Linked DNA regions of Homo sapiens. The gene in region 1 interacts genetically with each later gene. Each region holds a gene or a part of one and is shown in the gene's direction. Other genes may lie near its edges.

Evidence for each region.
Region 2: changes in DDX55 (region 1) and SREBF1 together harm fitness more than expected from each alone (negative genetic interaction), as found in Homo sapiens cells (one large-scale study listed by BioGRID).
Region 3: of DDX55 (region 1) and ATG7, changing one suppresses a phenotype caused by changing the other (phenotypic suppression), as found in Homo sapiens cells (one large-scale study listed by BioGRID).

The regions. Positions count from the first base shown.
Region 1 is NC_000012.12:123,605,037-123,608,684, forward strand, and holds part of DDX55 (ATP-dependent RNA helicase DDX55), read left to right. Parts: exon of another isoform or gene 1-894; coding exon 895-945; exon of another isoform or gene 946-991; coding exon of another isoform or gene 992-1,036; coding exon 1,037-1,123; intron 1,124-2,395; coding exon 2,396-2,487; intron 2,488-2,563; coding exon 2,564-2,626; intron 2,627-3,643; coding exon 3,644-3,648. UniProt on the Homo sapiens protein: Probable ATP-binding RNA helicase. Has ATPase activity and is involved in the maturation of precursor large subunit rRNAs.
Region 2 is NC_000017.11:17,816,455-17,820,102, reverse strand, and holds part of SREBF1 (sterol regulatory element-binding protein 1), read left to right. Parts: coding exon 1-13; intron 14-377; coding exon 378-565; intron 566-648; coding exon 649-783; intron 784-868; coding exon 869-1,090; intron 1,091-1,728; coding exon 1,729-1,843; intron 1,844-2,186; coding exon 2,187-2,407; intron 2,408-2,511; coding exon of another isoform or gene 2,512-2,555; intron 2,556-2,645; coding exon 2,646-2,847; intron 2,848-2,966; coding exon 2,967-3,145; intron 3,146-3,384; coding exon 3,385-3,646; intron 3,647-3,648.
Region 3 is NC_000003.12:11,275,335-11,278,982, forward strand, and holds part of ATG7 (ubiquitin-like modifier-activating enzyme ATG7), read left to right. Parts: exon of another isoform or gene 1-3,486; intron 3,487-3,648. UniProt on the Homo sapiens protein: E1-like activating enzyme involved in the 2 ubiquitin-like systems required for cytoplasm to vacuole transport (Cvt) and autophagy.

The DNA.
Region 1 (3,648 bases):
TGAGGCAGGGTTTTGCTCTGTTACCCGGGCTGGAGTGCAGTGGCACAGTCACAGCTCACAGTAGCCTCGACCTCCCTGGGCCTAGGTGATCCTCTTACCTTAGCCTCCTGAGTAGCTGGGACTGCAGGCATGCACCACCACACCCACATAATTAAAAAAATTTTCTTTGTAGAGACAGAGTCTCCCTGTGTTGCCTGGCTGGTCTGGAATTCCTGGCCTTAAGGGATCTACCCACCTGGGCCTCCCAAAGTGCTGTGATTATAGATGTGAGCCACCACGCCTGGCCCACCCTGGGTTTTGACAACCAAAAATGTCTCCTTACATTGTCAAATGTTCCCTCAGGGGTTGAGCAGGGGGATAGCAATCACTGTGTAGAGGCAGTTAGAATAATATTACACCTGCTGTGATTTAAGTGAGCTCAGGCCCTGGGGACCAGGGCTGAATCCTGGAGGGAGCAGCCTCCAGGCCAAGGCCTGAATCTAATTGAGGTTTTTTTTGATTGCTAAAACCAGGTTTCTTTTAAAGTCTGGCAACCTCTACAGTGCTTAAAATGAGAGGGTTTATTTGAATCATGATTCTGTGATACTAGAGCTGGAAGGGACCCTAAAACCCAATGTCTTCAACGCCTTCCTGGTTCAGAGAGGAAAGTAGGAGCGACAGGGCTAGAATTCAGGACTCCCACCTCCCAGCTCAGCTCACTGTCCCCACACGCCGTCCACATAGACACAGTTGCCACGTTTGATTCAACTTCTCTATGGTGACTTGGTTACTCAGAGCCCCTTTTGTGGTGGGACCCACTGTGACCTTAGCTGCCCATTATGTTCCTAGGGCTTCGGGTCTCACCTGTGAATTGATGGCATCCTTTAACCAGTGCTTTGCAATCTCTCTCTTTAGTCCGCAACCATCCCTCTGTTCATGCGAAACAAAGATGTCGCTGCAGAAGCGGTGAGTGCCTCGGGTATGTGCAGCCTGTCCTCGTGTTCTCCCTCAGATGAACTCTGAGGAAGAAAGGGAAACCAAAACTCTCTGTTTGCAGGTCACAGGTAGTGGCAAAACACTCGCTTTTGTCATCCCCATCCTGGAAATTCTTCTGAGAAGAGAAGAGAAGTTAAAAAAGAGTCAGGTGAGGACAACAAAAGTGATTTATTTTCACCTAGTCATCAGAGAGTTCACATTGGATTAAGAAGCTGGCTACAAATGTGAAAAAATAGGCCAGAAGCCGTGGCTCACGCCTGTAATCCCAGCACTTTGGGAGACTGAGTCTGGAGGATCACTGGAGTCCAGGAGTTTGAGACCAGCCTGGGCAACACAGTGAGACTTCATCTCTACAAATAATGAATGAATGAAACTTGAAAAAAAAAGACAGTTAATCCTCATTATTTGTGGATTCTGTATTTGTGAATTTGCCTGCTCGTTAAAATTTAGAACACCCCAGTGGATCCTCGGTGCTTCTGTGGTCATGGGCGTGGGCAGAGCTGCCTTTGTTTTCACTGCTCAGGTGTAAACAGTGTCCTTTTCGTCATTTATTTAGTGCCATGTTTTTTACCTTTTTTTTTTTTTTCTTTTTTCCCTGAGACAGGGTTTTGCTCTGTCACCCAGGCTGGAGTGCAGTGGTGTGATCTCATCTCACTGCAACCTCCACCTCCCAGGCTTAAGCTGTCCTCCTGCCTCAGCCTTCCAAGTAGCTGGGACTACAGGTGTGGACCATCATGTCTGGGTCATTTTTTGTATTTTTTGACATGTTACCCAGGCTGGTCTTAAACTCCTGGGCTCAAGTGATCCTTCCGCCTCGGCCTCCCAAAGTGCTGGGATTACAGGTGTGAGCTACCGCGCCCGGCCATTTTGCACATTTTTGTGCTTTATGTTGGTGATTTTGGTTTTTGAAATGGCCCCGTGATGTAGTGCAGTCTAGTGTTCCTGGGTGCAAGAAGGTTATGACGTGCAGAGAAAATCCCTGTGCTAGAGAAGCACAAGCTAAGGCATGAGTTAATGTGCTGTTGGCCACGAGTTCAATGAGAATGAATCAATAGTATATGTTAAATAGAGTCTTTTAAGCACAAACAGACATAAAATAGGTTTATGTATTGATTGGTTGACAAAAATGTCATGCCCAAAGACTGGCAGGAACCTAACCCTGTGTTTCCCCTGTGAGCAGTGGTTCAGCATTGACTAATTCACTGTTCTTCATGACTTGAAAGAGCATAACTGCAGTATATGATGACGAGTAACCGTAATTCAAAGTAGTTGATATGTGCTCAGAGATGCTGCTGAGAAAGTCTGGGAACTACTGTTTCTCTGGAACTTTCCTTTGTGTGGTAGAGGGCGGAGGGCCTATGAGTTCCTCTCTGGGAGTCCCTTGTGCTGCTGACTGTGTCCCTTCCTTCCATGTGGGTAGGTTGGAGCCATAATCATCACCCCCACTCGAGAGCTGGCCATTCAAATAGACGAGGTCCTGTCGCATTTCACGAAGCACTTCCCCGAGTTCAGGTGAATTGGATGCAGTGTCCCTGTTAGTCATGGGCTGTTTTGTCGAACTTAATCAAAGGCTGTTTTCTTGTTGTAGCCAGATTCTTTGGATCGGAGGCAGGAATCCTGGAGAAGATGTTGAGAGGTTTAAGCAACAAGGGTGAGTTTGCTCGTGTCTGCTTGTTTCTTTGCTTGCTTTTGGCATTGAACCTAAGAATCGATGTGTGATCTCAGCCTAACTGTGGGTCCCCCTTTCAGCAGCCTCCTCCCCCTGCAAAAAGGTGTTTTCTCCAGGCCAGCTTCCCATTGTGCTTTGCTGGCTCCTTCCCATAAGGCCCTGATGAGAACTTCACAAACTCAGGTTCTTACAGAGGTCAAGAGAACGACGTGAAGATAAATGAGTGGTCAGGGGCTGGGGGATGGTGAGGAACTGGCCAGCAGCTGCCTTGAATACTCAGCTCCAGCTGGTAGTTGCCTGGGAGGACTCGGCTCAGTAGTGGCAGGTTTTGAATTTTTTAAAAAGAAGATGGAATTCCAGATTTGTGTGTGTAATCTCCTGATTTTTTAACTGTTGGCGTGTAATCCACATTTGAAAAACATATCTTGTAGGTGAGCCAGTCTGAGGGAGCCACATCTGGCCCTGAGTCTGCCAGTTTGTGATCTTTACATAGGATTCTCTAATTCTGTCAACATTTCCATTTTACAAGTGAGTTACCTGGGACCTACAATGGTTGAGTAACTTGCGTAAGTCAGAGGTTGGTAAGCTTTTTTTTTATAAAGGAGCAGATGGTAAATGTTTTCGGCTTTGTGAACCATATGGTCTCCATCGCACTTACTCAACTGCTGTTGTAGTGTGAAGGCAGCGATAGACAACATGTGAATAAATGGGCGTGGTTTTCTGCCAATAAAATACTTGGCAAGGACAGGCAGCAGCCCAGGTTTGGTCCGGGAGCTGGAGTTTGCCAACCTTGCCTAGGTCATAGCCCAGAACCCAGATCCCGTCTCACCACAGCCCTCAGTCTTTCTACCCTGCAGCACTCTTCTACTCTCATGCTCTTCGTTCTCTTCACTAGGGCTTAAATGACTTTGGGGGGATATAAAACTTGGTATTTTGGTAATCATCAACCACATTCCCAAGATCCAGAGAGTTTGGTAAATGTTAACTTTCTTTCCAAAGTGGGA
Region 2 (3,648 bases), on another chromosome or scaffold:
GGCTTCTCTACAGGTAAGGGGGATGTGTGGCGGGAGGGGACACCCGGGGTGGGGCTTCCAGGAGCACAGGAAGAAGCTTCTGCTGTGATGTGAGTAGAGGTCTGTGCAGGCTTTAGAAACTGGGGCTCCACTCGGCTGCTTGAGATGCCCTGTTACTAGCAGTCCTGGTGTGCTTGTTGCCGGGGTAGGCGCAACCTCGCACTGGAGGCCTGGCTTGAAGCCAGTGCATTTGCATCAGAGCCCAGGCAGGGACTGTCCATAGGAAGCCACATGGGGCAATGACTCATCCAAGGCCAGTCGGTGATAGAGACCTGAAGAGCAGGTTGAAAGTGGGAGAGGGAGGTCTGTGTCTGCAGCCCCATGCTTTATTTCTGCAGGAAGCCCTCCCGGGAACACCCAGCAGCCGCTGCCTGGCCTGCCACTGGCTTCCCCGCCAGGGGTCCCGCCCGTCTCCTTGCACACCCAGGTCCAGAGTGTGGTCCCCCAGCAGCTACTGACAGTCACAGCTGCCCCCACGGCAGCCCCTGTAACGACCACTGTGACCTCGCAGATCCAGCAGGTCCCGGTGAGGGGGTCTGGCCAGGGGTTGGGGAGGGGGCAGCCCCAGCCCAGACACACAGCTTACAGCCAAGCCTCTCCCACCCTCAGGTCCTGCTGCAGCCCCACTTCATCAAGGCAGACTCGCTGCTTCTGACAGCCATGAAGACAGACGGAGCCACTGTGAAGGCGGCAGGTCTCAGTCCCCTGGTCTCTGGCACCACTGTGCAGACAGGGCCTTTGCCGGTGGGTGACGTGGGCAGGGCATAAGGGAGTGGGGTCTACACACACACACACATGCCCACCTGGTAACATGTGCCTGGCCCTGCAGACCCTGGTGAGTGGCGGAACCATCTTGGCAACAGTCCCACTGGTCGTAGATGCGGAGAAGCTGCCTATCAACCGGCTCGCAGCTGGCAGCAAGGCCCCGGCCTCTGCCCAGAGCCGTGGAGAGAAGCGCACAGCCCACAACGCCATTGAGAAGCGCTACCGCTCCTCCATCAATGACAAAATCATTGAGCTCAAGGATCTGGTGGTGGGCACTGAGGCAAAGGTGTGGAGAGGCCTGCAGGGGCACAGACCGGGGTGTCCCTAGGAAGGAACAGATCAGGGGCAACTGGAAGGAAGAGAGGGAGTGAGACTGAGCCTGGACAAGCAGGGAATTGGAATTCAGCCTCCCCAGGCCTGGCCAGCCTCGTTTATTTAGTTAAACTGGTTTGCAGGCCTCTTCAATAAAGGTGGGGCTGTGCTAGGCATTGGGGATGCAGCAATGAACAAGACAGACAAAAATTGTCCCTCAAAGAAGAGCCGACCTTCTGGTGGGGGAGATGGACAGTAGGCAGGATGAATAAGTGCTCGAGACCACCACGTTTGGCTCGTTGCAGAGAAAGCAGGAAGAGGATGGTGAGGGTCCCCTGGTGGTAGCCAGGGAAGGCCTCCCTGAGATGGCGGCAGGCACAGCAGCAGCTAGCCAGACCCTGCTGTCTGCATCTTACATTCTAACCCTATGCCCGGCCTGGGAGGTGGGTGCTACTAGGCGAGGAACGGTTCAGGTAGAAGGAACAAGTGCAAAGGTCCTGAGGCAGTAATGTTGCAAAGCAGCTCCGCACCCCCTTGCTAGGGCTCTCCAACCCCACAACCCCCGACCTGACAGGCCACCTGTGCGCTCCCCCTCCCTCCCACACCGTGCAGCTGAATAAATCTGCTGTCTTGCGCAAGGCCATCGACTACATTCGCTTTCTGCAACACAGCAACCAGAAACTCAAGCAGGAGAACCTAAGTCTGCGCACTGCTGTCCACAAAAGCAGTGAGTCCTGGCTTTATTGAGCTCCAGTCTGGCCTCTTCTCTAGCCTTGCTCCACCTCCCGGCCCCACCCCATCCCTAGCCCCACCCCACCCTTGGTTCTGGCCCACCCTCTGCCCTGCCCACCTCACCCTTGGCTGTAGCCCTGCATTCAGCTCTAGTCCCTTGGTTACCTCTGGTCCTGAAAGAGACCTGGTGCCTCCCTTTGGCCCTAACCCAGCCCCATCAAAGCGTCCTGGGCTAGCTTTAGGAGCTACAGTAGTCCCTAGGCCTCCAAGGGCCTAGGCTCTGATTTGGGGTCACATATCCAGCCTTTACTCCTGGCTCTGTTCCTTTCGGCCCACAGAATCTCTGAAGGATCTGGTGTCGGCCTGTGGCAGTGGAGGGAACACAGACGTGCTCATGGAGGGCGTGAAGACTGAGGTGGAGGACACACTGACCCCACCCCCCTCGGATGCTGGCTCACCTTTCCAGAGCAGCCCCTTGTCCCTTGGCAGCAGGGGCAGTGGCAGCGGTGGCAGTGGCAGTGACTCGGAGCCTGACAGCCCAGTCTTTGAGGACAGCAAGGTTGGGCCCTGCCACGGTGCCCCCTTCCCCACTCCCAGCCATATCCTCTGAGCCTCATGACAGGGCCGGGAAGACCCTAACAGATCCTACCTCCCATTTCATAGACAGAATAACTGAGGCCTGGAGCCACGTGGGGTCCCACAGTAAGGTGGGCAGAATCCTGACCCCCCCCTTCCCAGCCCCATGCTCTCTGGGGTCCCTCCGATTCTGCCCTCACCACCCTGCCCAACCCCACCAGGCAAAGCCAGAGCAGCGGCCGTCTCTGCACAGCCGGGGCATGCTGGACCGCTCCCGCCTGGCCCTGTGCACGCTCGTCTTCCTCTGCCTGTCCTGCAACCCCTTGGCCTCCTTGCTGGGGGCCCGGGGGCTTCCCAGCCCCTCAGATACCACCAGCGTCTACCATAGCCCTGGGCGCAACGTGCTGGGCACCGAGAGCAGAGGTGGGACCGGCCAGCCTGGGCATCTTTGGGAGGGACACTCGGGGTGAGCCCCCAGGCTTGTGAACTTGGGGCTCTGGATTTCCTGGGAGCTGTGTCCCCAGCTTTCCCTCTGTCCATAGATGGCCCTGGCTGGGCCCAGTGGCTGCTGCCCCCAGTGGTCTGGCTGCTCAATGGGCTGTTGGTGCTCGTCTCCTTGGTGCTTCTCTTTGTCTACGGTGAGCCAGTCACACGGCCCCACTCAGGCCCCGCCGTGTACTTCTGGAGGCATCGCAAGCAGGCTGACCTGGACCTGGCCCGGGTAAGGGGCTGGCCCCGGCAGAGTGGGCAGGGCAGGGACCCCAGGCTGTGAAGGTGCTGGGTGTCAACCCTTGTTCCTGCTCCCTGTGCACACCATGAATCTGTCCCGTCCTCCCTGTGCCTAGCCACGCATCCGCAGACCCCCACCACCCCTCCAGAGCCTGCTGTGGACGGCTCTTCTGAGCTTTGGGGCAGCTGCTCTGACCTCACTTTTCTCACCTGGAAAACCCTCATCCACAGGGAGACTTTGCCCAGGCTGCCCAGCAGCTGTGGCTGGCCCTGCGGGCACTGGGCCGGCCCCTGCCCACCTCCCACCTGGACCTGGCTTGTAGCCTCCTCTGGAACCTCATCCGTCACCTGCTGCAGCGTCTCTGGGTGGGCCGCTGGCTGGCAGGCCGGGCAGGGGGCCTGCAGCAGGACTGTGCTCTGCGAGTGGATGCTAGCGCCAGCGCCCGAGACGCAGCCCTGGTCTACCATAAGCTGCACCAGCTGCACACCATGGGT
Region 3 (3,648 bases), on another chromosome or scaffold:
CCTCTCCTCTTTTTTTTTTTTTCTTTTTTTTTGAGATGGAGTCTCACTCTGTCGCCCAGGCTGGAGTGCAGTGGCACGATCTCGGCTCACTGCAAGCTCTGCCTCCTGGGTTCACTCCATACTCCTGCCTCAGCCTCCCCAGGAACTGGGACTACAGGTGCCCACCACCATGCCCGGCTAATTTTTTTTTTTTTTTTTTTTTTTTAGTAGAGATGGGGTTTCACTGTGCTAGCCAGGATGGTCTCCATCTCCTGACCTCGTGATCCGCCTGCCTCAGCCTCTCAAAGTGCTGAGATTACAGGCGTGAGCCACCGCTTCCTCTCCCCTTTCTATCTCCTGATCTCCCCACCCTTCTCCAGTGCGATTAAGGCCTGATTGTATAATCAAGGGACAATAAATACTGGAGGTGCTGCTCTGTTAATTGGTAGTCAGTAGGTATTACCATGATCTTGGCAGACTGAGGAATAGCCTATTCACTCCATCTCAGACCGGCTTCAGAATGATCACTTTTGGGATTTCCTCACACCTTCATCCCAGTTACCATCCTTGAACTTGCTCTGGTTTGTCAGCCTCTCTTTGAGTGTGTGGTACAGAAAGGAAATCCTCTTTCCTTGAGGACTCTAACCATGCAGAGCAAGACTGCACTTTTCTTGTGGTAACCTAAAGCCCTGCCAGCTCCATTATAGACACATTGTGCTTTTGACACTATTACACTAGTGTGCCACCAAATAGGCCCTCAGCGTGGCTCAGCCCTCCCCATATCCTCAGGCAGCTCTCTTGTCCATTTCCCTTTATGTCTTCCTCATATTCATTCCTCTCCTCAACCTCCTACCTTGACTTTTGCTCCACTAAGTTGCAGCCATTAATTAAGGCATCGCAGCTTCCTCTTCTATCCTTTACCAACTGATCTTTAGCTGACCCTATCCTTTTGCCTTTTATTCTAATTCTGTGAAAGAAATGGTGTTTTAAGACTAAGTCCTCTATTTGTGCTTGAGATCCCATCGCCTCCTTTGCCTCAAGGACTGGGTTCCATCATTTGTTCATTTTCTTTTCTGTTTCATCAACCCTTCTCATTTAAATATTCTCTGTTTACTCTCATTTTGGAAAAAACAAAAACCCTCCAATTAACCTATGCTGCACCCTGTCACACCTCTTTTACCCAGCCACCTTTCTTGGAAGAGTTATCTAGAGTTGCTTCCTGTACTTCCCTAAGTCATTGCTAAAATCCTGCTCTCGTCCCACCACTCCCCAAAGTCATCAGACCTCGACATTGCCAGAATACCTGACCACTTTTCCTTCTTATCTTTCTTGGCACATCTGACATTGCTGACCTTGCCCCTCACTTAGGAAAACCCAGTCCTACTTTGTATTATCTCTCTGGCCATTTGTCCCTCAATTTCCATTGTGGGCTCCTTTCTTCCCCTTTGTCCCTCACATGCCAATTTTTGCCAAGACTCTGCCCTCTACTATATTCTTTTCAACCGCAGCTTCAAACTTGTTTATATGCTCATGACCCCTGTTCTGTATCATAGCCCGAATCTCTCCTGAGTGCTACCCTCAAACTCAAACAAGTCTAAAACTAAGCTCCTCATCTTCCCTTTGAACCTGCCGTTCTTTCTCCATTCTTGAATCTTGCCAATTCCTCTCCTTTCATTTAGTCATCCAAAACAGAACCCTGAGAGTCATCTCAGACTCTTCCTCTGGTACTAGCCCTCCTTTCCATCTTCCAAGTCCAGGTAGTCATCAGAGTTCTATAGATTCGACTTTGTTGCTATCTCCTGACTCACATCTCCTCCATTTCCTCCCTTGCTCCCTCATTTCAGGCTCCCCTCCCTTTTTGCCTGTCTTTCTGCACAGCCTCCCAGCTGGTTGCCCTGCCTCAGCAGTCTGGTCCTCACTGCTGTGGATTGCCTTTACTAAAATAGAGATCTATGCAGAAATACAGTTGCATAGCTTTTCACATAAGGCTCTTCATGATATGGCCTTTGCCTGCTTTTATGGCATGGTCCATCTACTCTGCCCCATGTGCCTCTCCTTGCTGCCATACAGAACTCTATCAGGGGAACCTGCCCCCAATATTTCAAGGTATGTTCTTTCTATTTTCCATAAGTGTCAGCTGGCTGAGAAATAAAGAGAAAGAGTACAAAGAGAGGAATTTTACAGCTGGGCCTCTGGGGGTGACATCACATATTGGTAGGACTGTGATGCCGACCCGAGCTGCAAAACCAGCAGGTTTTTATTAAGGACTTCAAAAGGGGAGGGGGTGTGCGAACAGGGAGTGGGTCACAAAGATCACATGCTTCTGAGGAAACAGGACAAGGACAAAATCAGAAACTCCTGATAAGGGTCTATGTTCAGCAGTGTATGTATTGTCTTGATAAACATCTTAAACAACAGAAAACAGGGTTCGAGAGCAGAGAACTGGTCTGACCTCAAATTTACCAGGGTGGGGTTTCCCAATCCTAGTAAGCTTGAGGGTACTGCAGGAGAACAGGGCATATTTCAGTCCTTATCTCAACTGCGTAAGACAGACACTCCCAGAGCGGCCCTTTATAGACCCCCCCCCCCCCACCAGGAATGCATTCCTTTCCCAGGGTCTTAATTATTAATATTTCTTGCTAGGAAAAGAATTTAGTGATATCTTCCCTACTTGCACGTCTGTTTATAGGCTCTCTGCAAGAACAAAAATATGGCTGTATTCTGCCTGACCCTGTAGGCAGTCAGACCTTATGGTTGTCTTCCCTTGTTCCCTGAAAATCACTGTTATTCTGTTCTTTTTCAAGGTGCACTGATTTCATATTGTTTAAACACACATGTTTTACAATCAATTTGTACAGTTAACACAATAGTGGTCCTGAGGTGACTTACATTCTCAGCTTACAAAGATAACAGGATTAAGAGATTAAAGACAGGCATAAGAAATTATAAAAGTATTAATTTTTGGAACTGATAAATGTCCATATTAAAATGAAATCTTCACAATTTATGTTCAGAGATTGAAGTAAAGACAGGCATAAGAAATTATAAAAGTATTATTTGGGAACTGATATATGTCCATATTAAAATGAAATCTTCGCAATTTATGTTTCTCTGCTGCAGCTCCAGCCGGTCCCTCCGTTCAGGGTCCGTGACTTCCCGCAACAGAACTCATTTGTATTTTCTCAAACATACCATCCTGGTTTGTTCTTTCATTGTTTCAGTCATCAACAAGTATTTATTGGGCACCTGTGAGGTGCGAAGACTGGTGTTAGAAAAACAATGACGAATAGGGGAAAATGAGAAGCTGGCACGGTTCCTTTCTCATAGAATTTTTATTTATTCATTCTTTGTTTCAGTCATCAACAAGTATTTATTGGGCACCTATGAGGTGCTAAGTCAGGTGCTAGAAAAACAATGATGAATGGGGGAAAATGAGAAGCTGACATGGTTCCTTTCTCATAGAATTTTTATTCTACTGAGGAGGATAACTGCATACGTGCTATGAAGGTAAGGTAGTTGGTGCTCTTTGAGGACTAGAATACAGGAGGATCGACCTAATCCAGAGCTGAGGGAGTCAGGGAAGGCTTCCCTCAGAAGTGATGATTGAGCTGTGATTTGAAGTGAGCAAAGAAATTCACTAGATGATGGGTATGTGGAGGTGGCCAAGAA